7 linked regions of the Homo sapiens genome follow. The protein of the gene in region 6 purifies or fractionates together with the protein of the main gene of each other region. This does not show direct contact. Each region holds a gene or a part of one and is shown on either strand. Other genes may lie near its edges.

Region 1 (4,413 bases), on a different chromosome or scaffold from region 6:
CCCCATCTCTACCAAAAATATAAAAAATTAGCTGGGCGTGGTGGTAGGCACCCGTAATCCCAGCTACTCGGGAGACTGAAGCAGGAGAATCGCTTGAACCCGGGAGGCAGAGGTTGCTGTGAGCCAACATTGCGCCACTGCACTCTAGCCTGGGCAACAGAGCGAAACTCTGTCTTTTAAAAAAAAGCGTACTGAGCAATGTGAATGTAATGAGCAATATCAATGTAATGACACACAGCACATACAATAAGCTATTGTTTTTTTGTTTTTTTTTTTTGAGACGGAGTCTCGCTCTGTTGCCCAGGCTGGAGTGCAGTGGCGCGATCTTGGCTCAGCGCAACCTCCGCCTCCCGGGTTCAAGCGACTCCCGAGCAGCTGGGACCACAGGCATGCACCTCCATGCCCGGCTAATTTTTGTATTTTTAGTAGATAGAAGGTTTCACCATATTGGCCAGGCTGGTCTCGAACTCCTAACCCTGTGATCCACCTGCCTCAGCCTCCCAAAGTGCTGGGATTACAGGCGTGAGCCACCGCACCCGGCCAATAAACTATTGTAAAATGAATGAATGACATGTACCATAATGTGGTTGAAGGCTACAACCCAAAGGATCCAAGTGGCATTGTCAGAGCAGTAGACATGGAAGATAAAGTTACGTGGTTACAAGATGGGGTAATCCAATGATAAGAATGTATACAGTTGAGACTGGGCATGGGGGCTCATGCCTGTCAATCCCAACACTGGAAGGCCAAGGTGGGTGGATCACCTGAAGTCAGGAGTTCAAGACCACCCTGACCAACATGGAGAAACTCTGTCTCTACTAAAAATACAAAATTAGCTGGGCGTGGTGGCACATGCCTGTAATCCCAGCTACTCGGGAGGCTGAGGCAGGAGAATCGCTTGAACCCCGGGAGGCGGAGGTTGCGGTGAGCTGAGATTAAGCCATTGCACTCCAGCCTGGGTGACAGAGTGAGACTCCATCTCAAAAAAAAAAAAAAAAAAGAAGAATGTATACAGTTGTGTACAGTGAACTGCACTTCAAGAGAAGCTGAAGACTACTGAGGACAGCTATGGGGGAAAAGTCCTTACTCATCTCTTCCTCTCCCTGTAGCACGGTACCCAAGAATAAAGGAAGGGAACCAGGCTCTGTTTAGTTGGAAGAGCTGGGGTGATTCTGCATTTCTCTTCACACCAGTAATATAAGCATGATTATCAACACCCACCAGATTAAAAAAGATCTTGTTGGCCAGGCATGGGAGGTCTCGCCTATAATCCTAGCACTTTTGGGAGGTTGAGGCAGGCAGATCACCTGAGATCAGGAGTTCGAGACCAGCCTGGGCAACACGGCGAAACCCCATCTCTACTAAAAATATGAAAATTAACCAGGCTTGGTGGTAACGCGCCTGTAATCCCAGCTACTTGGTATCACTTGAACCTGGGAGGCAGAGGTTGCAGTAAGTCAACCACTGCACTACAATCAGGACAACAGAGCAAGACCCTGTCTCAAAAAAAAAAAAAGATGTTGTTCACTGACAGTGATCCTTGGGTTTGGGCTTATGTAAGGGAAGAATTATTTTGAGCTGTACACACCAATAATGCAAGTTAAATGGAGCTGCTTATATATTACACCTTTTTTAAGACTGGGTCTCACTCTGTTGCACAGGCTAGAGGTGCGGTGGTGCAATCATGGTTCACTGCAGCCTCAACCTACCGGGCTCAGGCAATCCTCCCACCTCAGCCTCCCAGTATCATCTCACTGCAACCTCTGCCTCCTGGGTTCAAGCAATTCTCCTGCCTCAGCCTCCTAAGTAGCTGGGATTACAGGTACCCACCACCACGCCTAATTTTTGTATTTTTAGTAGAGGTGGCGTTTCACCACCTTGGCCAGGCTGGTCTCGAACTCCTGACCTCAGGTGATCCACCCGCCTCAGCCTCCCCAAGTACTGGGATTACAGGCGTGAGCCACCGCGCCCGGCCTACCCTCTATTTGGATGATACAACTTCACAGATCTCTAACTTGCATTTAGTCTAAATGTACAACTGCCTAAGGGACAGATTCACCTGCTTACTCTCAGAAGTAACCTGTGGAAATATACAAATTTAGGACTCAAAACACAAGTTCCTGTTCCAGCCCTGCCACTAACAACCTGTGTGATCCTGGGCATGTCTAGTTTTCAGTTTCATCACTAAAATGGGTCAAGTGCTAACTGGGTGTGGTGGCTCATGCATGTAATCCCAGCACTTTGGGAGGCCGAGGGGGGTGGATCGCACACCGTGCGATCAAGTGATCTATCCACCTCAGACTCTCAAAGTGCTGGGATTACAGGCATGAGCCACCGTGCCCGGTCCACTTGTCAGGAATCTTAAACTCTGGAGATCTAGTCTCCGGGGAGGGTACTAAAAATATCTGTAAGTGGCAACTTTACATGCCTTGTCCCTTTAGAGAAGCAATTATTTTCCAAGGTCTAATTCTGCATACTGCAACAACAGTTAATGCTGTATTACATTACTTACATGAATATGGATAACGTGATGTTTTTGCACAGACACAAAGCTACAGCTGGACCACTGTTACATCTATCATTCATATGTATTTATGTGAATTTACAACATATGTTTAAAATTCCAGAAATAAACAATTCGTAAGTCTTAAGATTGCAACGCAGTTCTTAGTACCATGATGAAATCTTGTGCTATCCTGCCTGGGACATGAATCATTCCCTTTTCCAGAGTATCCACACTGTATATGCTACCATGCCCATTAGTTATTTAGTAGCCTTCTCACTGATCAACGTAGTGTATACAGGGCTCAGTGCTATCAGCAGTTTCAGGCATCCACTGGGGGCCTTACAATATATGCCCCTCAGATAATGGGGACTACTTCATTGCTGTAAATAGCTCATGATAATATTCTATCACTCATCAGTTCAAGTATGTAGAAAATGTTGAAAATCTTTGTATAATTAGAAAGCATTTTTTTTTTTTTGAGACAGATTCTTGCTCTGTCGCCCAGGCTGGTGAGCAGTGGCGTCATTCCTGCTCACTGCAACCTCCACCTCCCAGGTTCAAGTGATTCTCCCACCTCAGCCTCCCAAGAGTTTAGGATTCCTGAGAAGTGGGCCGGGTGCAATGGCTCACGCCTGTAATCCCACCACTTTGGGAGGCCAAGGCGGATGGATCATTTGCAGCCAAGAGTTTGAGACCAGCCTGACCGATATAGTGGAACCCTGACTCTACTGAAAATTCAAAAAAATTGGCCAGGCGTGGTGGTGCATGACTGCAGTCCCAGCTACTCGGGAGGCTGAAGCAGGAGAATCACTTGAACTTGGGAGATGGAGGCTGCAGTGAGCTGAGATCGCGCCATTGCACTCCAGCCTGGGTGACAGAGCGAGACTCTGTATCAAAAAAAAAAAAAAAAAATGACAGTGTAGACTAGGGTTTCTCAACCTCAGCACTACTGACATATTGACATTGGAGCTGCACAACTGTTGTGGGGGGCTATCCTACGCACTACAGGCTATTGAGCAGCATCCCTGGCCTCTACCCACTAGATACCAGTAACACTCCCCACAACAGGTTCTAACACCCAAAAAACGTCTCCAGTCATTGCTAAATGCTCCAGGGGCAGGAAGAGGCAATATTACCATAGGTTAAGAACCACTGAGTAGAGTCAGCCTTGGTGTTTATCCTTACCATTCAAAGAGTTCTGAATACAAAGTAACCAACCAGTCACAGAAACACTTTGCTGAGTAGATTCATGTATGACTCAGGGTAAAGTTATGACCTGAGTTTTCCAGTCTCCTTATAAAATATCATATTCTCCAAAGGGCAAGAGCAACACACCCAAAACAGAGGCATACCATTTTCATGCCTTGTTCTTGCTGGCAGTCTTTAAGGTTTCTAACTGACAAAGCCAGAGAAAACATCATCACAGGCAAGAGTAAGTATACTAAGACCTTAGCCAACTCTAGAACTGCTGGGTGTGGTTCCTTCTGGTGGTGGAGGGGTGGGTGCTTTTATATACCGTTTTGTCTTAAGGCAGTGATTGTGCCAGTAGATACACTGCAATACGCTTAAGGCTGTTTCAGTGAAAATACTATTTAAATCTAATTAACCAGAATACTGGGCAAATTTTATATTTGTCTGTTGTAGAAAATCTTTTCGCCATAGCACAGAAGGCTGAACAAAACCATATTTTTTGTTGTTGACTAAGGATTGTGTAATGCTTCATAGGTTTACAAAAATTATCTATGACTAAATGGTACTGAAGATTCAGAAAATCCAAGGAGAGGGCTGAATCTGAAAATGATGCCAGGCTATATCACAAGTGGAGGAAAAAAACCTTTTTAATGGAATGAGCTCAGTAACACTTTTGTATCTCTTTCCTAAGAATAAGAATGCCACCAAAGGTTTGA
Region 2 (4,413 bases), about 110 Mb from region 6:
TGGCACAATCTCAGCTCACTGCAACCTCCCTCTTCTGCATTCAAATGATTCTCATGCCTCAGCCTTCCGAGTAGCTGGAATTACAGACATGTACTACCACACCAGGCTAAGTTTTGTATTTTTAGTAGAGACGAGGTTTCACCATGTTGGCCAGGCTGGTCTTGAACTCCTGGCCTCAAGTGATCCACCTGCCTTGGCTTCCCAAAGTGCTGGGATTACAGGCATGAGCCACTGCACCCAACTTACTCTTCTTAAATTAATCAGATTTCAGATATAAATCAACACGTATCTCAGATGGGATTTATTATAAACAATAATAAGCATAGAAATTTTATACATATTATTAATAAGCATAAAAATATATACATATTATTTAAGAATATCCTGTGTGTCAGGAACTATTCTAGGCACACTGAAGATACAGCAATGAAAAAAAGTCCCTGTTCTCATTAAGCTGTTATTCTAATGGTAAAGAAACACTGTAAAATGTCAGATGGTGATAAGTAGGGTAAAGGGATAGAGAGTCATGGGAGGGTACTGTTTTAGTAATCAGAGAATATTATTCTGAGGAAAGGCCAATTGAGTAGACTTGACATAAAGTGAAGGAATGAGCCAAGTGAGTTTTTAACCTAGTAGCTATCCATGAGAATAATTGTCCAGGTCTCATCCACTAGAGTCATGACTTTAATTGGTTTGGGATGACATTGTCCATGTTTCTTTCTTTTTTTTTTTAAGTCCCCAAGTGATTCTGATATGTAACGATGCATTATAGCCACTGAAAAAGATATATCTCTAAAATAGAGACAAGTTAACTGTTTTACCAGTGCTTATTAAGAATATCATTTCCAAGTATTTAATATACATTTCTGGTTCTTCATTGTGTTAAATTCTTGGAATGTATCAAAATTCCCAAGCAGTGAGATCTACGGAAGAGAATAAGCCACTGCTAGACATAATGCTTCTAACTTCTTGGACAGGCCTACCACTATATTATACAAGGTGTAAGACCTTTACCTTCTTCAAGTCTATCATCAGCAGAAGCCCAAACTGCCTCCTTTCCTTCACATTGGATAAGTCTGCTTGAGCAGAGAAGTAAGAGTGAGGAAAAGGGAGGATTTTCTTCTCCCTGCTCTCACAGAGGTTCATAAAAGTATCATGGACAGGAAGATTAATATATTCTGCCCAAACTGAGATATTAAAGCATTCTGTATGCTCACATCATGACCAAACTTCTTAGAAATTACATATGCGTAATAAAGTTCTTTCAGTCTTTCTGTAAAGGCAGTAGAAAATTTGGAGTTCCAAAGAGGGTACTGTGACTTATACCCAAAGCTATAAATGTCATGTAAAATCACAACTCACTCTGGTAGCTGGAAACAGTTATCAAACAGAGTTTAGAATTAATTTACCAATTACTGTCTAGCATCCCTTTTCATCCTAAAAGATAGCAGAGTAATACCAAGGCATATGGTAGACCAAAGATATTTGCTGAATGAATGTATCAAAGAATGCTTTAGAAAGGATCGACAGAAAACCAGTAATTCTCATATACTATTAACAATGTATTACTTAACATGTTTTCAAAATGCAAAAATAAAGTAAATTCTTCAGGAAAACTGAGTTAAATTCTGATTTACCTTTTTTGCTCTTTCAGAAATGGTTGGTGCTCTCTGCAATGTTTTTTCTTGAAGAAATTCTTTATTCTGGAGAGGAAAAGTAAGTATTTTGTTCTTACAAGTTTTTAAGGTACCAAAAAAAACCCACAAAAAAGTTCACCATAATCAAAATGTGATATAGTAACTGTTCTGTAATGAAGTGTGAGAAAAACTTTCATTCTTTCACTCTGAAGCTCCTTTAGTATGTTACTACCACAGTTTCATAAATTGAGGCAGAAAATTAAGATGTAGTACACTGTATGAACCACTGTCTATGAAGAGTTTGCTGTACTGTATGTTCTTTGAGATCATGGTCCTACATTTCCAACTACAGTAACATCCTACTATCTGATATATTTGGGAAATGAGATGTTTACAAATTCAGTAGTAAACCTTAAAACCAGAGTTCGGTATTTTTCACAAATTATATTTATAATGGCAAAATTTAATAATCATTGTTCCTATGATCAGTTTAACCTAATATTTAAAAACGGATTTACTAAATTCTGAAGCAATTATCTTAATTATCAAAGACTGTATACATAGTGCTTTCTGCAATTATTTTATCTACCATCATTTTTCCAAACATAATCATCCAACTTCTAAGCACTGAACATAATCTGAGTAATTGAGGAGCATCCTATGAACACACATAATCAAAAGCTGGAATTTCCTACCTTTGCTTTCTGGAAAAATTTGTGCCTTAATAGTTCTGCTGCTGTTGGTCTAAAACCAGGAAGGGAGGGAAGAAAAGTTTTTATAATTAATTCAAGTGTAATGTCAGATTCCATCATCAAAAATGAGAAAAAATTTTTTTCAACAGCAAAATAAAAACTCAGTATACTCTACTTTCCTTAAACTGCTAAAAAGCAAAAGTAAAATAAACTTGATACAGGACATTGAATAAAATAAAAAACTCAAAACAAATATTCTGATAATTATTGTAGATTCTTTGAAAAAATCATTAGTGAAATGTTTTTTCTGGAAGCATGATTTCTTAATAGAGTCTAATATATTTGCTATTTAATAATATTAATTTAATATTTAATATTATTTCCCAATAAGTAAGCTAGAAAATATCTATCTAACATTTTTAGCAAGGCATAAAAATATATTTAAACACACAAAGAGGAAATGGACCAAATCAAGACCTCCACTTCTTGCCACATGGTAGCCTGCCAGCCTTCAATTTAGGTAACCACAGATCCCTAAAAACAGATTTCACAATCTCCCTTTAAAAATGAAAATTCTAAAAGTATATTCCCCAAATTTAACAAAACTCAGTGTTTAACTCATTTCTTCATGGTCTTATTTCCTTTTAAGTAAAGACACGACTGTCAATTTTACAAGCTTTTAAAAGAGTATCATTCAGAATAAAGAATTTAACATTTAAGAGACTGGACCTGATTTTGCCACACACCTACCTGATCCTGAGCAAATCACAACCTCTCTAAGGTTCAGTATTACTTGGCCAAGCCCCTAAGTTCTTAAACACTGCTGTGCATTGAACTATCTGGGAAGAATGTAAAAATCCCAATGACCAGAGGGCACCATGGCTCATGCTTGTAATCCCAGAACTTTGGGAGGCCAAAGTGGGTGGATCACGATATCAGGAGTTCAAGACCAGCCTGGCCAATATGGTGACACCCAGTCTCTGCTAAAAAAACCACAAAAATTAGCAGGGCATGGTGGCGTGCGCCTGTAGTCCCAGCTACTTGGGAGGCTGAGGCAGGAGAATTGCTTGAACCCATGAGGCGGAGGTTGCAGTGAGCCAAGATTGTGCCACTGTACTCCAGCCTGGGCGACAAAGCAAGACTGTCTCAAAAACAAACAAACGAACAAACAAAACCAATGACCAGGCTGTACCTCAAACCAATTAAAGCAGAATCTTTAATTGGCTTTAGTAATGTTTAAAACTCCCCAGGTAATTCCAATAGGCATTCAAGTTTAAGAACCAGCACCTCAGATGATTATTATAAAGATTAAAAAGCTGAATAAATGTGAAAGTGCTATGCAAACTGAAATCCTACATTATCACTCTTATTTTTTCATATGCTCAACAATTGCTTCTCAATATGCTCAACAATGTGATTGCTCAACATTGCTTCTTATTATTCATTCCTTTCTTCTGACTTCATTTCCTTCTTTCTAAAGTACAACTTATGGGTTCTTTAAGTGACAGAACGTGACTGGAAAACTCAATTTCTGTGTGCAAAATAATTTCATGCTCATTCTTGAATGATAGTCTGACTAGCTGGAGAACTCTGGGTTAAAGTCACAGTCATGAGCCTCTTAATGCTTTGGCCAACAATATACTGTGTATCTGACAGTAGTCAGAGCAACAGGCTACACTAAATAGCCTAGGCATGCAGTAGGCTGTACCATCAAAGTTTGTGTAAGTACACTCCACGATGTTCAAACAATGACAAAACTGCCTAATACACATATTACAGAATGTATCCTCATCATTTTAAGTGACACATGACTGCATTTTCTCTGAGCATTTCACTAAACGCTGGCCTCAACTGTTGTGTTATTGGGGAAGTAGCTGTCAAGTCTACCTGCTAATCCTCAGTAGGTAATCTGTTCCCCGAGGTTGCCTGTAGGAGTTTGTCTTTGCTTCGTGTCCAGTAGTTTCACAGCAACTTGTACAAGTGGAAGAAGGGGGACACTGCTTGGAATTCTGGGGGGATGGTTCTTTACTCTGAGAATATAGGTCTTTCATCAACTCTCGAAAATTCTCAGCCATTATTTCTTT
Region 3 (4,413 bases), on a different chromosome or scaffold from region 6:
TATTTGGATTTCTCAAGGCTGGTTGTTGACCTAAAATTTAATTGTGATGGTAAATGTTCAAATAAATCTAAAACAAAATTCTATTACTCAAGGATGGACACTAAGAGACAAACAGTATATCATGTATTAGTTTTTGACATTTTCTCACTATATAGTTCACATGTGCAAAATATCCCTAAAAACAGGAAGACTGCTCAGATCTTCTGCATAAGTTACGTAGGCAGCAAGCTATGCACAATTTCTCCTTGTGCTAGCTCTAATTCCATTCCTTTGCTCCTCAGGAGAATATCATGCCGTCTGAAAATGGCTTGATAAATGACAGGAGGTCAGTATTTGCAGTTAAATGGCCTTAGTTCCAGTTCTGGTTCCACCACTTACTAGCTATGTGGCCTTAGATAAGTAGGTTACTTCTCTGAGCCTGTCTCCTCATTTGTAAAACAGATGGATAGGAAAGAAATGATATCTCATTTGGCGGTATAAGAATTAACAATGAGTTAATGCTGTGAAAGCATTTTACAAACTAATGTACCACATTACACACTGATCTAGATTTGAACATTTACCATCGTAATTACATTTTAGATCAATGTGCCTGACACATTATCCTTAAACATGGATAAAAATTTATTTAAAAATCATGACCATGTATAATTTTCAGTGCTCATTTTTCACTCTAAAATATTTTAAATTATATTCTGAAGCTTATGAATTTTTCTTAAAAATAAAAGCAGAACTTCCTTAATTAGGACTATGGTAGCATATATAGAGTTAGGTGAGTAGTGGACGGTCAAAAATATTTTAGTTAAAAAAAACTTGCAAGCCCATTGGGATTCAGTAATTATTCTTAAACAACTAGAAATATCAAGTAGCACAATGAATAGATTAATATGAAAGTCAAATAATATAAAGCACATGTGTGATAAATAATACTTAACTTCTGAGGCTAAAATATATACATAAAATAAGGAGTAATTTAGGTAGAAGTTTGTCCTTTTTATTCTACTGCAGCAAAGGTCCATGTGTAAAGAAAGAAGTATCTGCTAATGCTGAAGATTAATCATCATTCAAGCATTAAAAATCTTGTTATTTACTGGTTTGATGGAAAACAATATTTTTCACTGCCAAAAGCTTTCCTATTTCTATCAAATTTAGTGTTAGATATAATTAATTTTATAGGCAGGTTTTCACTTCAAGTGTCTGAATATAATTAAAAACTTACTAGAAGTAGCATTTTATATTCTAAAATAAAGTTAAGAAAATATCACAGAATCCTAATTTTTCATAGTTACATTATCTAGATCAAGCTAAAGTTTCCTAATACTTGCCTCTTGCAATCGAAAAACAACGGGGATTTTCTTTTCTGTACAGGCAGCTATGAAGTTATCAGGGAGTAACTGTCCATCTAAAAGAAACTGGTCATCTTTCCCTTGATCAATTAGTATGTCCAGCTGAGATCCTGGATAGGATTTCACAAGGTGGGTAGCATCATAAGCCTGTAAAAAGAGAAGTAACATTGAAAAATAAATTCAAAGATACTCTTCAGGATATACTATACTAGTACCAAACAGAAATTTAAAGTTATTTAAGCTCTTAGGCTGATTAAATCAGAAATATGCTTTTAAGTTGGTTCAAAATCTGACTTGCCAGGCTTTTATTTACAAGGTCTTCGGAATTCTATTTTCTAATAATAGTCTCTTCCCTACTTTCAAGCAGTCCTAGACTAGTGGCAAGAATCCCATATCTCAGGGATTCTTAAGAAAATGGCCTTTTTCCTTCTAAACCTTTAATATTCTTAATCTCCTCTTGGCTCCAGCAAGAACATGATTTTTTTTCCTTTGTAACTCCTTCCACAAATTGGAAACTAGAAGCTTCTTCTAACTCCATGATCTTTTTCCAAATATTCTCTATTTCAGATAATCTTTTTTTTTATGTCTCTTCTTTATGGCTGTAATTCCAGACATAAACACATTCAGCCTTCTTTTTTGCTGTTGAACAGCACCAAACCTCTGCTATCTACATAAGCTTTCAGAAACACCTGGTGTGAATCATCTGAATCATATCAACATCATCTCAAATTTATTCTCTGAGGAGCTGCCACTAGTTACAATTTTATGTTTTATCATCCACCTCGAAATATTCTTATTCATATATATTCATTAACCACAACTTTATACATTGACCAAGACAAACAACCACGAAAAGATTTGTCCTCTAAGTATCCTGCTTTTGAAGGTTCTATTTCCTTTCATCTTAGAGTGGGAGAGGACCTATAAAGTCTGACTAGTTAGTTCTAAATTCTATGATTTCATAATTCTACATGGTTTCCTGATTTCAATCGTAAATTAAATAATACCCTAAATACAACATAATTAAGACAGTAAAATCTACTGTCACTTGGAGAAAAGTACATATCTAGATTCCTTTTTAGGTTACCTGTACCTCTACCTCTCACCTTCACCCTCCAATTAGTTGGTCTTTTACCCAATTCTTCTATTAGACCATAAGCCCCTGGTGGATGTGAAAGGGTCACCATTTTCGTGACAAAACAGCTCAGAACCTAGCATAGACTTTGCACCAGATGAAGACTCAAAACACTGATGTACATGCAATGTCAGTTCTCAAAGGACCTAATCCTAAATCATTTCTAGCATTCTTCAAACATAGTAAAAATTCAAGCCTAAACAAAACTGTAATCTAGTTACTAAAGGATGAACCCTTTAATTAGTTAGAATTTCAGTAATCATCCTTAAATAAAATGTGTTGGAATTTCAATAATCATCCTTACATAAAATAGGGGTTCATGTAGGAATGAACCCTGAACACAGAACTATACTTTAAATACTTTAAGACAAAGAAGTTGCATTTTTTACCCATTCAAGTATTTTCTGCTTGTTAACAATACACATCATGATGAGTTCATTTGCAAAGTATTCAAACTCTTGGCAGAGTTTGTAAATGGCCCATTTCTGCACAAGAGTAACATGGCTCTCAGGAAAAAGGGTCATTTTTATTTCCACTTGAAAGCACCTGTTTGCATGCTTGAAAAAGCAATCTTGCTGTGGGAATATTCACATAAATGTACATAACAGAATATCTATTTTTAAAGACTCGTGTCTGGAATTTAAAATCGAGATCTGAAATGCTAAATTTTGAAAACAAAGTAATTTAAAAAGCCAGGCTTCTTTGCTTCTATTACACAACTGAGCACATAGTTAATAAGAGGCAAGTCTAAATTTAGTAACACAGGTTGAACATCCCTAATCCAAAAATCCAAAATCAGAAATGCTCCAAAATCTGAAACGTTTTGAGTACCCACATGACGCTTAAAGGTAATGCTCCAAGGAAATACCCATTGTAGCATTTTGAATTTTTAGATTAGGGATGCTCAACCTGTAATATATGGTATTTTTAGATTAGGGATGCTCAACCTGTAATATGTGGTATTTTTTGGTTAATTTAGAAGTGATGTTAATTTAGAAATAAAAATATAAATTAACCATTAGTAGAAAAAAAATATAGCCCCAGAATATCTGCCATGATTCAATACAATTAGAAAGTAGGGTTTTTTGTTGATTTATATATATATATATATAAAATAATATATATAATAATATATATAAAATAATATATATAATAATATATATCTCATATATTGATATATATATCGATATATATATATCTTTTGCTAATTTGTCTCAGCTCTAGAGCCCTAACATGAGCAGGGTAGGAATATAATATATGTCCAACCTTTTAAACAAACTTGAAACTTAAGAATGAGTATTAAGACAGCCATTCAGTACCTACCTTCCATTTACTTTGATCTGTTCCCAAATATCCACTAAAGGCTTTTTTGCCCCAGGGACAGAGTACAGGGTTGCAAATTGGAGCAAATGCTGACACAGACTTCAGAAACAAAAGAAATTTAAAAACAAGTTATATTTTGCTAAATTAAATATGAATAGATATTTGCAACTTACTTAAAAATATAGAAGTTACTTGCAACTTGCTTAAAAATTCTGACTTGCCATGAAAACCCTGTGAACAATTTTCCTTTTGATATATTGCTGGCTTAGATTGCAGGCCTTTCCATAATACATCTTTTGTGTATTCTATTAAGAGAGCTAATAAGTATAGTTGCTAAAATAATGCAAAACAATACATTGCAATTTAAGATACAAACAGAAGTCTATGTTCAGCGTTTCTGCTTTTTTAGCACTGAAAATTAATCTATAGTGATATAAAACAGTTCATGCTTACCTTAGTGAACATGTTACTAAATCTGACACATTTCTCTTAAACAGTACCAACAAAGCAGTGAGCAATGCATTTCAATATGACAGAATTTTTAATACAACTCTGTGTTCTATACAATGTTCTTTTTCACTGGATGAGATGCAGAGATGGGATCTCTCA
Region 4 (3,634 bases), about 34 Mb from region 6:
GAGAGTCGTTAGCTGAGGGAGAAGGTATAGGGAGAAGAGTGAGGTAAGGGGTCTCTGAGGCAGAGGAGATCTCTGCCCTGCTTTCTGGGCATGCAGCTGGGAAGACAGCAAGATCCCAGGGAGAGAGCAGCCATATGCCATACCTTGGCAGTCATGTCCATGGCTAGTGTACAGACATTCCTGCACCCCCAGTTTTCTACAGAAGTAGCAGATAAATCAGACTGAAAGAGTGATGTGAACAGGGTTGTGACTATCCCTGAGCAGGATGGCTATCACTCATGATGATGATCATTGGTCCAACAGTCACCCTGGCTGAGGGATAGTCACTATCCTGCTTCCTACCACCTGGACAGCTTGGCATGGTGTGAGATCCTAGAACTGTGGCCCAACTTTGTGTGGAAAGTAGCAGGGCAGGGAAAGGGGACTCCAAGAAGGACTGGGGTTAAATTTCCACTAAGCCAGTAGGATGGCATCCTCAAATAGAAATTAATTTGTTCTGAGCATAAAGTGACATTTCTTATGCACCTGAATTTATGGTCATGATTCATGTTAGCAAGCTTCTTTGCAATTTATAGCCAGAGGTTTGTTTGCTTCAATACTGAATTTAGAACTTATTTTTCCAAAAGAAAATTTAGATGCCTAGTAATAATCACGAGGAGAGAATTTAGGTCACTTTAATAATAATAAATAGGGGGAGGGTGGGAAGCAGGAGAGCATTCGGAAAAAGAACTAGAGCATGCTGGGCTTAATACCTAGGTGATGGGTTGATAGGTGCAGCAAAGCACCATGGCATGCTTTTACCTATATAACAAACCTGCACACCCTGCACATGTGCCCTGGAACTTAGAAAATAAAATGAAATAAATGATAACAATAGTTTCAATACCATACTTTATTAGTATGCCCAGGTATAGCCCAAGCAGTAACAGAGACTCTAGAATTAGAGTTAAGTCCAGGAAAGAAGGAGATTCTGAGTGGCATAGATTTGTCTCAAGTGATGTAGTGGTGAGTGACAGAATTAACTACTAATAGGCAGCACTGAGTTCTTTCCTCTCCTTTCCATTTGATCTCTCTTCTCAGGCCATCTCTTTTCCCATTCACATTTTGCTGCATCTTCAGTATGAAAGTAGGTTGAAAAGAACTGTAATTTTCACAATTACTGGTCATTTTATTTATGTTTCTAATTCAATGTATTATTCATTTTCCTCTTCAAAGGAATCACATTTTATTTTGGAAATGTATGTGTAAAAAACATGGAAACTTGTGGAAACCCACTCTTGAACTTCCCTGGACATGATTCAGAGACTGATTGAGGAAAGGGCTGATTGTCTGGCTTTAGAGGATGTTTGTGGTGCGGCAATGGGAAGCTGGGAAAATTGGCCTCAGGAAGTGGCAGCACCTCACCTTTTCTTAGAGGAGGGAGTCGGTACACAGATCCAATTTGTCTGCAATGGAAGGGACGGGGTCCTTTACCTGGGCCTCGCCTTCTTAAGTGCCCAGGTGGTGGGCCGTGGCCATGGCAACAGTGACCTTGGTTATGGGGTGGTGGGTCACAAGGTCCATAGTCTTGGAAATCATGGCAGTGGGGATGGTGTCCATGGGGATGGTGTCCATGGGGGTGGTGTCCATGAGGATGGTGTCCATGGGGGTGGTGTCCATGGGGATGCTGTCTATGGGTATCATGTTCATGAGGATGGTGTGCATGGGGATGGTGTCCGTGGGGATGCTGTTCATGGGAATGATGCTTATGGGGATGGAGGTCACTGGAATTATTATTATGAGAATGTCTTTGGGCCCCATTTGTGCCAAAAGTGGCATGTTGACAACTTGAGCAGGACATGGGCAATAGTGGAGGAGGGCCTTGTGGAAGTGGGGGTCCATGTGAGTGATCTCTTTCATCTGGAGGAGGTGGGGGTCCATGTTCGTGTGGCTTGTGGGGATGATGATGATCTCTAGATCCATGGGGCTTGAATGGAGGCTTGGTGGTAGAAGAACGCTCATGCCCACCCCAGTGGAAGGGATGTCCCAAATGAGGCGGTACACCATTGATGTTCTCATGTTCCTGGAAAAGGTCACAGAAAAGTGCCTATCATCATGTAACATAAAAGAAGATGTTAGATACTTGACTTGATTTACACCAATGGCTCCCAGATCATAGATTCCACAAATCAATTTAAAAAGTATTACGAAAAAAGATTCTCAAATTGTTATCTAGCCCAGTTGATATTTAAAATATTAACAATAACTATCATTTACCACCATCATTGTTTCACAAAAGAAACTATTTTTTTTTTCTGAGACTGAGTCTCGCTCTGTCACCCAGTCTGGAGTGCAGTGGTGCGATCTCTGCTCATTGCAACATCCACCTCTCAGGTTCAAGCAATTCTCCTGCCTCAGCCTCCCAAGTAGCTGGGACTACACGCCCAAGCCACCATGCCCACCTAATTTTTTTTTTTCTTTTTTTGAGACATAGTCTTACTCTGTTGCCCAGACTCCTAATTTTTGTATTTTTAGTAGAGACAGGTTTCACCATGTTGAACTCCTTGTTTCAAGTAATCCACCCATCTCAGCTTCCCAAAGTGCTGGGATTACAGGCATGAGCCACCATGCCCAGCCTGGAATGAAATTTTGATTTAAAAAAAAAAGAAAGAGCCAGAAACACAATATCAGAGTAAAGGATTGTCCTTTAGATGGATAAATGTTAGATATAAAAAACTTCATTATCCTTATTTTTTTTTCATTTTTACTACACAGAGTGGTGAAACAATATTATGACCTGGCACCCATCTGTAGACCAACACTGGAAAACTAGTGCCTTATAACTGATATTCTTAACTGAGGCTTGATGGTATCAACATCCCTTACTCCTAAAGGCTGAACACTTGACCTCTTCTCTCTCTTCCTTGTTCAGAGTTTAATTTTTTAAAAAATAGCTACAGAGGCCGGGCACGGTGGCTCATGTCTGTAATCCCAGAACTTTGGGAGGCTGAGGCAGGTGGATCACCTAAGGTCAGGAGTTTGAGACCAACCTGACCAACATGGAGAAACCCCTTCTCTACTAAAAATGCAAAATTAGCCAGGTATGGTGGCGCATGCCTGTAATCCTAGCTACTCAGGAGGCTGAGGCAGGAGAATCGCTTGAACCCAGGAGGCAGAGGTTGTGGTGAGCCGAGATGGCACCATTGTATTCCAGCCTGGGCAATAAGAGCAAAACTCCTTCTCAAAAAAAAAAAAAAAAAAAAAGACAGAGCCATGTTCATGGTGACAATCCTGCCCTTTGTTCCTTTTTCTTTTTTTTAACTTGGGATTGGATGTTTGGATTATTTTAAGTTTTGTTTCTGATATGAAAAATTTCGTGAAGCAAATCTTTGTACTCATGTAAAAAATAGACCAAAGATTTCTGAGACAGATGCAAAATATGGTTTTGCATCTTATTTTATATACATTTACATAATAAATTTGAGGCTGATATATTCCTCTTAGATTCTATGCCCAATAATATAAGCTTAGGAATGACTAAGTCTCAGCACTAGAGTCCCGACTACAAAGAGCATTTTCAAATTCCTTCAAGTTTGGTTGAATTGGACATGATTTTAATTTTCTGCCAATTGTTACCCCTCTTCAATTCTTGGAA
Region 5 (4,413 bases), on a different chromosome or scaffold from region 6:
CACACACTGAATAGTTCCCCTTACTGAGCAAGGACTGAGTGCCAGGCTTTCTACTGGGTGCTTTATAAGCAGTCATCCTCAAAAACCCCATTTCAAAGGGAAGTCCCAGAGAGGTCAAATAAATTGCCCAGGGTCAAGTCACTAGCAAGTGGCAGAGCCAAGATTTAAACCAAGTCTCTCTGGCCCAAGGCTATTGTGGACCACACTCCAAACTCTGCAGAGGTGCCGAAAGCCAGAGTGAGCTGGGGCAGGTGCAGCCTTCACAAATGCGGTGGGATATGAATTATCATAGAACTTTAAGGATAAGTGGGATTTGGACAAGGAGAGAGGTGAGGAGAGAGTTAGTAACGGGACAGCCTGGCCTTGGCATCGGAACCCTGAGTTCCAGCCCCAGCTCCGCTTCCAACTCATTTGTGGCCTCAGATAAGTCTAGCCTGTCTGGCCTCCGTTTCTCTCATTTGAAAAGCCCTTGCTCAGTCTAGACCTCCAAGATTCTCTTGTGTATTTACTACGAAGAGAACGCCAGGGGGCAGCACAGGATTGCAACTTCTTCATAGAGTCACTCTTGTGTCGCTGTCACTTTACCTAAAAACAGTGTCACCAACTCTTAAGGGAGGCAGCAGCTCTGAGCCAAGGCACTCTCAGGGACAACGAGGGAAGACCCGGACAGAGCCACCCCTGAGACAAAGCCCAGCTGCCTGGAGTTGGGAAAGGAATCTGCAGGACAGTAACAAACACAACTCCATGCCAAGAAGTCCTGCGGCCAAAATCTTTTTTGGTCTGACTCAAATGTGTCTCTACCTGGAGGCTTTCCAACCACAACTCTTCCCGATAGGACTTCCCGCTCTGAACCTTTGTTGATTCTCTGATGTTGTTTCCCCAGCCAAAAGGTGGACTCAGCCAACCCGATTCCTGGACTTTATTGCGGGAGGAGGGAGTAGAGTCAGCGACTCTACCTGTCTGAAACATGGTGCTGACTCCAGGATCGCGGAGGTGGCTGAGACGTGCTCTGGGTGGGGGTGGGATGTGAGGGGAGGCTCACACCTGGCAGAGAACCCTGAGACTGTAGCAGAGGGTGGGCGTGCATGAGGCAGTTAACATGAAGTCAAAGGTGGGGTGATATCCAAGCCAGCCAGCCAGAGGATGTGCCAGCTCCTGGTTGGGTTCCTAACCTCTCCTTGGCTTCCCCCTGGCCTCATCCCTCATCCCTCCCAGATGTACACTGACCTCCACAGAGTCCCCACCGCCTCCTCACCTGCCCTCCTAACCTTCCCCTCCCCCGCCCACCTGGCTTCGCTCAGACAGACTCATGCGCTCTGGGGCCTGGGGGTGCTCACTCACTCTGGTGATGGAGGAAGCTGTAGAGCTCCTTCATGACTGCTGTCTTCATGATCTCTCTGAGGAAGGCGTCCTGCTCGGCCAGCTCCTGGGCACTGAAGTGCTCCCCATGGCCTGTTGCCCGCTGGTAGTTGTTGAGGAGGTTGATGAAGGCTGCATAGGTGGGCTTGGAGAACAGCTTCTCATTGACATAAGTGAAGAGTCTGGGGGAGGCAGAGGGGAGCCCCACTGAGAGCCCCAAACACAGGGCAGCGACCCCTCCAGAGACTTCTAGACAGGCCAGGGGCAGACAGGCGAGGGCTGGGTTCAGGAGCCGAGGGGGCACTTCGGGTACTCTTGAAAGTCACACATCAGGTCACTTTTCTTCCACCTCATGTTTTGGAAGAGCTGTTCTATCCTCAGCCTGGCCAATCACAGAAACCCTCCCAACTGGATATCCACAGTCCCTCAAGATGGCTTTGTCTCTGGAGAACTATTTTTTTTCTGCTCTCCCTTTGATCGTGCCTGACTTGAGGATAAAAAGTCGAGACATCGAAAGAAGCAAGGATAGGGGCAAGATTTAGGGGGTAGAAAGAGGAATTGTGGGAACTCACGGCTTTGGGCAGCGATCCACTTGGTTTCTGGTCTCTGACGGGGAGATGCAGTTTTGGCTATTGAGAACGATGTCTTCCTTCTGGGCTTTGTTGGTGTCTGCCCTGTAGATCTTCTCAGAGATGCTCTGAATCTCCTCTTTTGTTATGGCATCACTGCTGTGGGAGACCTCTGGGAGGAATTGGAAGAGGGGTGGCCTCAGAGCCAGAGGGAAAGGGGGGCGGGCAGGAAATTATCTGTGTACCTCCCCTCCTGGGCACCTTCAAGAAGCCAGCAAGGAGGGAGGGGGGCCACAGTTGGACACCCTAGTGGTGGACAGGGGCCCAGAGCCTAAAGGACGTGTAAAATCACCACACGGCATTGCCCACAGAATGTCCCCCGCCCCTTCCCCCTAGAAGGGGTCTCACGCTTGAGCATGCATCAGAACCACCTGGAGGCCCTGGTAGTACAGGACAGTGAGTCCCATCCCTAGAGTTTCTAATTAAGTAGGCCCGGAGTGAAGCCCCAGAGTTTGTGTTTCTAACAAGTTCTCAGACATTGCTGAAGCTGCTGGTCCAGGGACCACATGTTGAGAACCTGCTCTAAAGTCCTTCTGTCTCTGCAGCTTAGCTAAGGGAGCAGAAGACTAACCGTGGTCACTACACAGGCTCTCAAAATCCTTGCAGCAGTTCCCAAACTCTTGGCAGCGGGCATTGCAGTGACATTGGTGGTGCTTGTCAAAGGCTTCGTAGCAGCGGCCCTGGCAGGAGGTGGGTGCCGAGTACAAGTCTGAGAAGAGAGGGGTGGTGTGTCCCGGGCTGACCTCTAGAGGTCGCTCTGAACGCCCCACAGGCTGTCGCTCCCTAGCCTGGCTGTCTTCACTCTGCCCAGTAAAGATCTCCAGGGAAGGAAAACAAACAAACCTAATTCGTGCACACCCTTCACAGTCAGGAAGTCCTTTCTGATGCCGAACTTTACTTTCTGGCCTGCTGTTTTTCTAATCTTCTCATTCTAAAAATAAAATCTCTTCCACTTCCCTCTCCAGGCCTCAGGCTCTCTTTCCTAGCTACCCTCCTCCCATGGCCCCCCAGGCTGGCTGAGCCCCCCCAGGCTTCTTCCTGCCCAGGTTCCCAGAATCCAACAAGCCTCTCTCATCTGGCTGAGGCCTGGGCCTGGTGCCACTGCCATGGCCGCCCCTGCTTGTCACCCTCATGTCCCTCCTGCTTTATCTTGAGGGCCCCCCTTTGGGGAGGCAGGCTCACTGCTGGCGAGGGCCTCTTCTGTCTCTTCCTCCAGCTGTGGCAATGGCTCTGACTCTTTGTGGTCCTCTGCAGGTAGATAGAAAAATAAAGTCACCAACAACCTGAGAATTCCCCTGCTGCTTGGTTTCTGGTTCTCTGTTTCCCCAGCCTCAGGGGACAAGCAAGGGCACTGGAAGCAAATTCTGAACAGGGGCTGGGGTCCAATGGACAGGCACCAAATAATGATGATGAAAACAGAAAATGGAAGATGTTTCCAATGGAAGACACATTATAGAAAACTTATAAAAAAGGAAAATAATTTCCCCAGGTGACACATCTGGATTGAAAACTCTGACTTCGGTGATGAAAACTCTGATTTAACAAAAGTTGACAGATGGATAGAGGCTTGATGCTGTCCTAATGACAAAGCCCTCACTTAGGAACATCCTGTACCTAGAAAAACTTCTCGTCAGAGCTCAGGGTAAACTCTCAGGGCCTCAAGGAATAAGAGCTGTTTCCTGAGATTCCAACTTCCCTTCTTTCTTTGCCCCACTTGGAAATGGCCACAAAGACTGTGTCTAGGGAAAAGGCATGTTCAGAAAAGCACATTCCTATTGCTGCCCCTTTCCCTTCACCTGCAAGCTGAGTGACTGTAGCTCAGCTCTGGGTGGAGAAGGGTGGATTTGAGGTTGGGGGTGATGCAGGGGGGAGAAATGTTCCTGGGGACTCTGAGTTCCTCTCTCATCACACAGTGGAATAATCCCCCCACCAGCACCCCCTCCACACACCCAACAAACAGTACTGTTACAAAGTGATTCAGAATCTACTAGTGAGTTTGCTGGAAAGTTATTACCATCAGAACTACCAGTTAGGTTATTCTTCAGTCAACAAACATCTTCTGATCACTTACTATGTGTCAGGTTGTGTTCTAAGTGCTGGCAATCCATGGAGTTCTGAATTCAGCCACATTTTATGCTAAACAGAATTTTGTGTGCTGAGCTGGAATCCTAACCATCATTTCCAATATGTTTTTCTATAGGAAAGGGGTTCTGAGTTGCAAATCAGAAACTTGAAGATGAAATGGCTACTACGCTGGGTATTGCCTTTATCTTGAATGCCAGCCTGATGGTCCAAGGTGAACAAGCCTTCCTGTGTTTTCTGAATGGTAAGAAAAAGTGGGGACACAAGGACAGCAGAAAAGGCATAGGCTCTGATTCCGGCTGATCTCGGCCTGGGTCTCCCTGCCTGGGGAAGGAGGTGTATG
Region 6 (3,500 bases):
AAACATTAGACTTTCAAACCAAATTTAGATATAGTGTTTATAAGAACTCGTGGTGTATCTCTTCAGAACCTGGCATCTTGAAACCAAGATCTGGTAAACAGAAACATCAGTAAGGGGGCCTTTGATAGGGGAATACTGAATTGCAAGCCTAGTCAGTGACATAAAGCTTTTCTCATCCATTTCTTACCCACAGAAAGCCCTATGTCCTCCAACTCTTTGTATCTGTCACTTAGCTTGACCACCCTCCTGCTTTCTTTCTACTAGAAGAGTTATCCGTCCACAAAGAGTGCTAAAATGTCACTGTTGTAATCAAACAACACAGAAACAAATAAAATGCTAATGTGTCACTTTTACTGTCATCAACAAATGCTGATAAATTATTGGATATGATTGAAATTTCTGGATACAATAAGCTGAAAATGGGCTGTAAATTCTAATACTGAGACAAGTTAAGAAAATATCTTTGATAATATTCTAAATACAAATATGAACTGCTTAAGTCCTCATCTTGAATCCTTTATATTTAGCATAGCACAAGCATATAACCATGGATTGACTAGTAAACTGTAGTACCAACAGTTTGTAACTATTTAGTGGCTGCAACAGCTGATATTTCATGGTATTCAATAGTAAAACTAATGACAAAATCTATCAATAATCTAGTATAGGACATTTGGAAACCATTATATTTCTCCTAGATAAAAGAAATAAATAAATGAATTAAAACATATATGAAAATTCGATATCTGAATGTTATCTATAAACATATGGAAAATATGGAACCATTGCTGAATAGAATACTGCGTTAACAGAATAATATTTTGCTAAGGCTGAAAAATACTGAATACCTTTTGTTCCCATTATTTATGCATTTAAGGACTGTTCCCTTTATTACATGTATGTGGGTCAAGTCAGAGTTATCTTAAGACTTTCCCTTATCTGAACTTTCATACCATGTTACCCAGCCATTGTTTATTAAATATCACTTTCTACTTTATAGTTATTTTCGAAGCTCTTATTTTCCCTACCAGATTCTTATTTTTTTGAGGACAACGTATATCTATCTTGATTAAGTTTGGTAGATTTCACTAAGTCTACTGTGGTATTTTTTCACAATATGTATTCACTTATAAATCAACTTTATATGATAGAATAATATTTCAAGTCAGCAACGTAATGCTTATTTCATAGAACTAAATGTCCCCATAAATCTAGAATCTTCTTAGCTCTCTAAAACAAGTTCATTTTTAGTTAATAGCTTCTAAACTTTTAAAAGTGAAAACGTAGGAAAAAATCCAGTGTCAAATACAAATTTTTGGAAAACTACTTTGGAGAAAGACATCTCTTCATTTTGTGAATTTAGCTAAAGCAGGACTGGAATGGAGTTGACATCAGCATGGACATCATCACTGGTATTTAGATTTCATATTTACCACAATTCTTCTTAATAGTATGATATTATTTAACATTCAGGTGATTTGAATAAATTGGCATTGTCTTGGGGAAAGTTATATGCTCATGCATGCGTTACATACAAATTGTATGTTCACACTTCACAGGAGTATGTATTTTGCATACCTTTATCAACTATTATTCACCTCTTTTGGTATATAAAACATACATCTCTCAGTTTCCTAAAAGAATGTCAAAAGAGATGATGGTTTTTCTTTTGGAGCATATGAGCATGATATTATTTCAGAAACATCTTCACCTTTTTGGAATAACTGGTCTCTGTGGAAAAGCAATTCTCTACTCTGTCCAATATGGCTACATTTCGTTTTGAGATTAATATTTCCTGAACTGTTTTAACAAAAGATAATCATAGTAACCTAGAGAACATAATCAAAAACAGTAGAAAAAGAACCAAATGTGTAAGACTTAATTCTCCTAACACAAATATTTCAAGATGTGTGTTACACATATTTTTACAGATTTCACAGGCACATATGATGAGATGCCTCTCTAAAAACATGAACGATTATCTGAAAGAGATGTTCTGGATCTGTTATGAAAAAAACTGGTAATATGTAGAAAACTATAACCATGTATTTACTATTTTTTTCCTCAAGGATGTATCTGTAATGCTTATATAAACGTTTATTTTTTATAATATGAAAAACACTACGTAAAAACCGATTTCTCTACCTCAAATTTAAAAATAAAAAATATGTCTAGAGACAGTTAATGCCATATGCCAATAGCTCTTCTTGAATCCTCTGCCTTGCAATCAATAATTCTCCAACCATTAGTGAATATGCTCCATGACTCATCAGAAACAATATACAAAGTTAATGGGGATCATTCTTCCCCTCACCCTCCACACACGCACTGACACTAATGGAAGCTATGCCTCATCTAGTGGAAGACAGACTCAAGATGGCACCAAGCTGAGGCAACTCTTCTTGAGGCTCTATATACAAACTAGCTAACCTCCCCACGAAGAATCCACAACATCCATTTTACATTTTTTGGCATCCTTCGAGAAAATAATAGTAAGCATACTTTATATGGCTAGAAAAGAACCACATTTTTTTCAGCTTAACACTCACTGTGAATGGCAAAATGTACTTCAGTTATGAAAATATCTGAAAGGAATGTTTCCAGGACCTATGCCATTGTGCTTTGTTTACCAGTCAGATGCCTTCTCAAGAATGTGTTCAAATTATAAAGACAGTGTCTCCATGTATAGAAATTCTTCAGAGCCCATAATGTTACGTTAGAAACACATTTTCACCTTTGCTAATATTCAAAACAATACCCTCCTATCTGCAGGTAAAAATCTTTCATTCTTATGAATGCAGCAATCTTTTATTAACATTTGCTCAGGACTTTGGATATGGGTTTTTTTTTTTAACTTTCTAAAGAAAGTTCTAGCAAAAGAAAACACATATTAAGTATTTGAAGATAATTGCTATTTACTAAAATCTCTATTTTAAAATAATTTTAGTGACTCGTTTATGTTTGGTAACTTCAGGACAATGATAACTACAGTGTCTCTAAAATGTTCCTAAGTAACAATCATACTCTATTTTGGCCTTTGAGAGGTGTTAAGACTCATTCTCTAATTATAAGTTTTTCTCTATTATTACTACCTCACCATCAAATCTCTAAACTAAATAGCAGCTTTGAGGAAATAAAAATAGATGTTAGGTGGTGTGTTTTCTCAAATTTTGGTTACAATGGATAAGAAAGACGAGGTATTTCTATGTATAATAAAATAAGCCAATTTTATTGTTTTGACCAGCAAAATCTTTAAGCTTTCTCCCAGAATATTGTTTTCCTGCTTTATCCTAGAACAACACTGTCCAAAATAAATACGATGTTAGCCACATTTGTTATATTTTCTAGACACCATGAAAGAGAGAGAGAGAGAGAGAGAGAGAGAGAGAAAAGAAACAGGTGAAGTTAATCTAGTAAGATCTTCTATTAGAACCAATATATCAAAAATTATCATTAAAACATATCATAAATATAAAAATATTAATCAGATGTTTTACTTT
Region 7 (4,413 bases), on a different chromosome or scaffold from region 6:
TAGACCCACTGTAAAACCATGTTCTGGTTAAAGATGCAGCAGAAATAAGTCTATAAATTTGTCCAAGGCTAAAGGAGCTCAGATTGCTTTATGCACTAACTCTGGCTGCTGAAATAGTATTAGAAAGAAGTTTTAGAAGTGTTTGCATTGTTGAATCACTGAGGATTTTCATTCTGAACCTGGATGCTAAGGATGTAATATATACTGAATATGATGAACAAACCTATGAATAACCTCTCCATGGGGCTGACCAAGAGTAACTCTTGATTTGGGAAATTCAGTAAGTAAATAAAGGCTCCTTGACCCAAACACAGAAAAACTGGGCTAGGAAAAGTCTGGCACTGTCCCAGGGGCATCAAAGCTGTGCTAGTTTTTGAACCATTTAAAGATATTGGTTACAAAATAGATATTGTATTATATGGACTTTTTAAAAAAAAAAATACCTAAACAAAAGATTATCAAAAACTAATATATTCTTTCCATTGTATATGAAGAACAGAGCATTTGCATTTACTTATATACCTATTTTATTCTACATTTATCAGAATTCCTTTCTTTCCATTAAATTCTAGCATGCTATTCTATGATATTATAAACTACAAATAATGTTCTAATTTATTCTTACCTTAACTACACAAAGAACTCCTTCATTGGTTTTGGCATCTGTTACAATTTTAAAATTGCCATTTTCATTGCCCTTTAAAATGGTATAATTAGCTCTCCAGTTAGCAGTATTCACTAAGTCCTTATCCTCAACAGTAACTCGTAAGATTTCCACATCAACTGTATTTTCTTCCACTGATGTCACATACTAAAATAATAAAAGCAAACAAAAAATTTCGTTAGTAACTCTCACAAAAATTGAACACGATGTGAAGTAAATCCTACTCTTCTAATTTCCAAAGTACTATGTTTACATGATTTGAAACCCTAGCACTATACAACTTTTAATGTCACTGGGGCACTTCATTTGAAATCATGAGGGGTGGATGGGGATGTGCATTTTTTTCTTTTCCTTCACTGCAACCTCTGCCTTCCACGTTCAGGCGATTCTCCTGCCTCAGCTTCCCGAGTAGATGGGATTACAGGTGCCTGTCACCATGCCCGGCTAATTTTTGTATTTTCTGTAGAGACGGGATTTCACCATGTTGGCCAGGCTGTTCTCAAACTCCTGACCTCAGGTGATCCGCCCGCCTCGGCCTCCCAAAGTGCTGAGATTACAGGCGTGAGCCACTGCGCCAGGCCAGAGATGTGCATATTAAACAATTAAAACTGGTCTATACATTTTTCTTTAATTAATATCATACACTTACAGAAGTACGAGTAAATGTTGGCAAGTGGTCATTTACATCATCAATGTTAATGATACAAGTTGAAGTTGTCTGTAGACCAAAATACTGACCATCCATGTCTTGTACTTTTATTTTCAACTGGTACTTGTCAATTAACTGAAAACAAAAAAAGAATTTAATTATTGGGGGAAAGCACCAACATTATAATTGAAATCTTACTTTACACTCCATAATTTTTTTGCACTAAGAATTTAAGAAGTGCATTATTACATTTCACAGCATTCGTGTATTAGAAGAATTTTCTCTCACTAGTAATTTTTCTTTTCTTTTCTTTCTTTTTCTTTTCTGAGACGAAGTCTCGCTCTGTTGCCCAGGCTGGAGTGCAGTGGTGTGATCTTGGCTCACTGCAACCTCTGCCTCCCGGGTTCAAGCGAGGCAGGAGAATCACACTAGGAATTTTTAATCAATTTATGAAAATTGAATAGTTTCTCAAATTTATAGTGCTATTAACTTACAGAATATAGATTCAATTGGTTTTGTCTTTATTCAACAGAAAAAGAAGAGCTATTTGCCACAAGTGCATTTAAAATTGCCTGGTAATTAATCAAAACCTTTATCTCCTAGCCAAAGTACATTCTTATGTTCAAAAAAATAGACAGCAATGACTCTTAAAATAGTCTTTTAACAAAACAATAAAATGAAATTTCTTCCTGCAAAAAATATAGATTTTAAGGGTTTATGTTACATTTAAGAGATCATCTAAACTGACATGAAGATAAAGGTCTGGGGCTATGTAGGTTTTTTTCTTTCTGTGGAAAATAGAATCTGGCTCTTAAGGCTTTCAATTTATCAGATATTGTTGAAAACTCATCACTACCTTAAAAAATATTTTTAAACATCTGAAGCATTTAAATATTTTAAAGTGTTTCTCCTTATAACTTTCATTTATCATAAGTGATTGAGATATGGGAGAATTAAAAACAATACAGTAATAATGCTTTCCGGACTGAGCATTAGGAGACTTGGGTTCTATTTCCAACTCCAAAAATAAGAGACACAATCTTGGGCAATTGGAAAATTCACTTTGTCTAGGTTTCTTCTTCTATAAGATGGTGATGCTTACCTTTCCTACCTAATTTATCTCTTTTCATAAGACAAAATAGCATGTTAAAATCTATCCTCATCTTCTACCTAGAATGTTCACCCTTCTCTTACAAAGATTCTTCCCTTAATTCCATCATCTCTGAAACTTTCTTTTCCTTAGGCATTATCTAAAATAAAACTAAAGTTTCTCTTGATCTTCCTGCTTTTAACACACATAATTTTCCAGATTTACTCCTCCCTCATAACCAATCACATGTGTAGACTTGAAAAATAATGGCCTTATTTCAACTGAAAAATTTTAAAACATCATGCTACTGTACTTTCAAGAAGGAATACATATTTTGTTTGTAGTGAACTAAAATTTATTGGAAATAATTAACTGGCTAATGAAACAAGGAAATGAAGTTTGATACCCTAAGTATTAACTTATGCTATCTTCAGATGGAAGAGAAATTCTGATGTTTAAAGGGACTAAAAGGTTGTAGGCAACTGAAGAAAACCGGAATCCTGAGGTCAAAAAGTTACTAGAGAGCACCACTGGATAAACACCTTCACTGGACAAGTGTTTTCAACTGATTATTTCAGAAGAATCTATTCAAAGAAAAGCACTTCTGTGATTGTTTGATTTAGGAGCTGAACAAGCTGTTGAGTTTTTGCTTTTTTTTTTTTTCCATAGAATGCTATTTTCACATAGACATCTATGGCTATGCAGACTATAGTTTTATGAAAGTATTTTGTAAAACATAAAGTTAATCTGTCACTTCAGGGAAAACAACTATTTGTTGCCAATGATAAATTGGAGATTTCAAACAAAAATGAGAAGCTTGGAAAACCTTTATCAACCAATGTGATATCAATGGAAGTAAAGAGGTGATCTTTTTGATATTATTTAATGCAATGTGTCAATATTTGGAAGCTCTGCATTACTTGGTGAACCAATATTTTCCAAATGACCAATGCACAATATAGAATGATGTACTGGTAAAATGGTCACTCAAAGTGTAAGATAGAGCAATGGATTTTAACGTAATAAAGTACAAAAGGTCATTGTTGAGGATTCAGAGTCCACATTACCAAAAACATTTAGGAAACAAGCTACTCCTTATCAAGTATTCATGTAGTATCAAGGAATAATATCCACAGTGATCTGTAATTATCATCAAAATACTACTCTCTTTTCTAATTTTATATCATGTCAGATTGCCTTTATATATGCTTCAGCTAAAACTACATATTGTAACAGACTAAATGCAGAAGGAGATATGAGAATCCACCTGTCTTAAGCAAAATACTAAAAACATTTGGAAAAATGCATAACAATGTCATTCTTCCCACTAAATTGTACTGTTTTGGAAAATGTACTTATTTTGTAAGTACAAAAAGAAGAAAAAGTGTAACAATTTTTACTGTTATTTTATAAGAATTTTAACTGTTAACATGTAATTAATTTATTATTTTTAATATTTAAATTAATATATAATTTAAACTTTCCTTAGTTTTAAACATTAACAAGTAACATAGATAAATATAACCTAGATAAATAAAAGATCTTTGGGATTTTCAACAATATTTAACACTGTTAACAGTATTCAACAATATTTAACAATATGTAATAATGTCAAGCATTGGTCTTGAGACCAAAGCTTTTGAGAACCTCTACCCTAATCCATGAGGGATAGAGGAAGGAAGAGAAAATTAATCTGAAGATTTAAGACTTAAGAATCAAATAAAATACCTGATAAACATCTATTACTATATTTTAAGATTAAGGATTATAAATATAGTAAATAAGGACACAGAAACTGCTATAAGAATTTAGATGAATAATGCTTCAGGGAGGAGGTAATAGTTGAATAACTAAGTGAATGAATTACTAAGCTAGGGTATTGCAGTAGAAAGAGACAGAATATAGATTTAAAACAATCTTGGAGGTAAAAACATGCTTTAGGAAGTGATGTGATTCAGGGGGGCCAAGAGACATCAAATACAATTTGGAGACCATGACTCCAAGGTGACA

What was found.
Region 1: the proteins of MBNL1 (region 6) and ATL3 purify together in Homo sapiens (affinity purification with mass spectrometry; one large-scale study listed by BioGRID and IntAct). This does not show direct contact.
Region 2: the proteins of MBNL1 (region 6) and OXSR1 purify together in Homo sapiens (affinity purification with mass spectrometry; one large-scale study listed by BioGRID and IntAct). This does not show direct contact.
Region 3: the proteins of MBNL1 (region 6) and ESD purify together in Homo sapiens (affinity purification with mass spectrometry; one large-scale study listed by BioGRID and IntAct). This does not show direct contact.
Region 4: the proteins of MBNL1 (region 6) and HRG purify together in Homo sapiens (affinity purification with mass spectrometry; one large-scale study listed by BioGRID and IntAct). This does not show direct contact.
Region 5: the proteins of MBNL1 (region 6) and ENDOU purify together in Homo sapiens (affinity purification with mass spectrometry; one large-scale study listed by BioGRID and IntAct). This does not show direct contact.
Region 7: the proteins of MBNL1 (region 6) and DSC2 purify together in Homo sapiens (affinity purification with mass spectrometry; one large-scale study listed by BioGRID and IntAct). This does not show direct contact.

What each region holds. Positions count from the first base shown.
Region 1 is NC_000011.10:63,664,364-63,668,776, forward strand, and holds part of ATL3 (atlastin-3), read right to left. Parts: intron 1-4,413. UniProt on the Homo sapiens protein: Atlastin-3 (ATL3) is a membrane-anchored GTPase that mediates the GTP-dependent fusion of endoplasmic reticulum (ER) membranes, maintaining the continuous ER network. It facilitates the formation of three-way junctions where ER tubules intersect.
Region 2 is NC_000003.12:38,227,655-38,232,067, reverse strand, and holds part of OXSR1 (serine/threonine-protein kinase OSR1), read right to left. Parts: intron 2,382-4,413; coding exon 2,333-2,381; intron 1,704-2,332; coding exon 1,638-1,703; intron 1-1,637. UniProt on the Homo sapiens protein: Effector serine/threonine-protein kinase component of the WNK-SPAK/OSR1 kinase cascade, which is involved in various processes, such as ion transport, response to hypertonic stress and blood pressure.
Region 3 is NC_000013.11:46,776,131-46,780,543, forward strand, and holds part of ESD (S-formylglutathione hydrolase), read right to left. Parts: intron 3,904-4,413; coding exon 3,805-3,903; intron 1,494-3,804; coding exon 1,326-1,493; intron 1-1,325.
Region 4 is NC_000003.12:186,675,475-186,679,108, reverse strand, and holds the end of HRG (histidine-rich glycoprotein precursor), read right to left. Parts: intron 2,087-3,634; coding exon of another isoform or gene 2,063-2,086; coding exon 1,226-2,062; 3' UTR 875-1,225; downstream 1-874. UniProt on the Homo sapiens protein: Plasma glycoprotein that binds a number of ligands such as heme, heparin, heparan sulfate, thrombospondin, plasminogen, and divalent metal ions. Binds heparin and heparin/glycosaminoglycans in a zinc-dependent manner.
Region 5 is NC_000012.12:47,714,959-47,719,371, forward strand, and holds part of ENDOU (uridylate-specific endoribonuclease isoform 1 precursor), read right to left. Parts: intron 4,315-4,413; exon of another isoform or gene 4,189-4,314; intron 3,237-4,188; coding exon 3,171-3,236; intron 2,698-3,170; coding exon 2,560-2,697; intron 2,101-2,559; coding exon 1,932-2,100; intron 1,542-1,931; coding exon 1,342-1,541; intron 1-1,341. UniProt on the Homo sapiens protein: Endoribonuclease that cleaves single-stranded RNAs at 5' of uridylates and releases a product with a 2',3'-cyclic phosphate at the 3'-end. The UU and GU sites are more efficiently cleaved than CU and AU sites. Targets mRNAs to regulate their expression.
Region 6 is NC_000003.12:152,271,929-152,275,428, reverse strand, and holds part of MBNL1 (muscleblind-like protein 1), read right to left. Parts: intron 1-3,500. UniProt on the Homo sapiens protein: Mediates pre-mRNA alternative splicing regulation. Acts either as activator or repressor of splicing on specific pre-mRNA targets. Inhibits cardiac troponin-T (TNNT2) pre-mRNA exon inclusion but induces insulin receptor (IR) pre-mRNA exon inclusion in muscle.
Region 7 is NC_000018.10:31,081,613-31,086,025, forward strand, and holds part of DSC2 (desmocollin-2 isoform Dsc2a preproprotein), read right to left. Parts: intron 1,449-4,413; coding exon 1,314-1,448; intron 812-1,313; coding exon 626-811; intron 1-625. UniProt on the Homo sapiens protein: A component of desmosome cell-cell junctions which are required for positive regulation of cellular adhesion.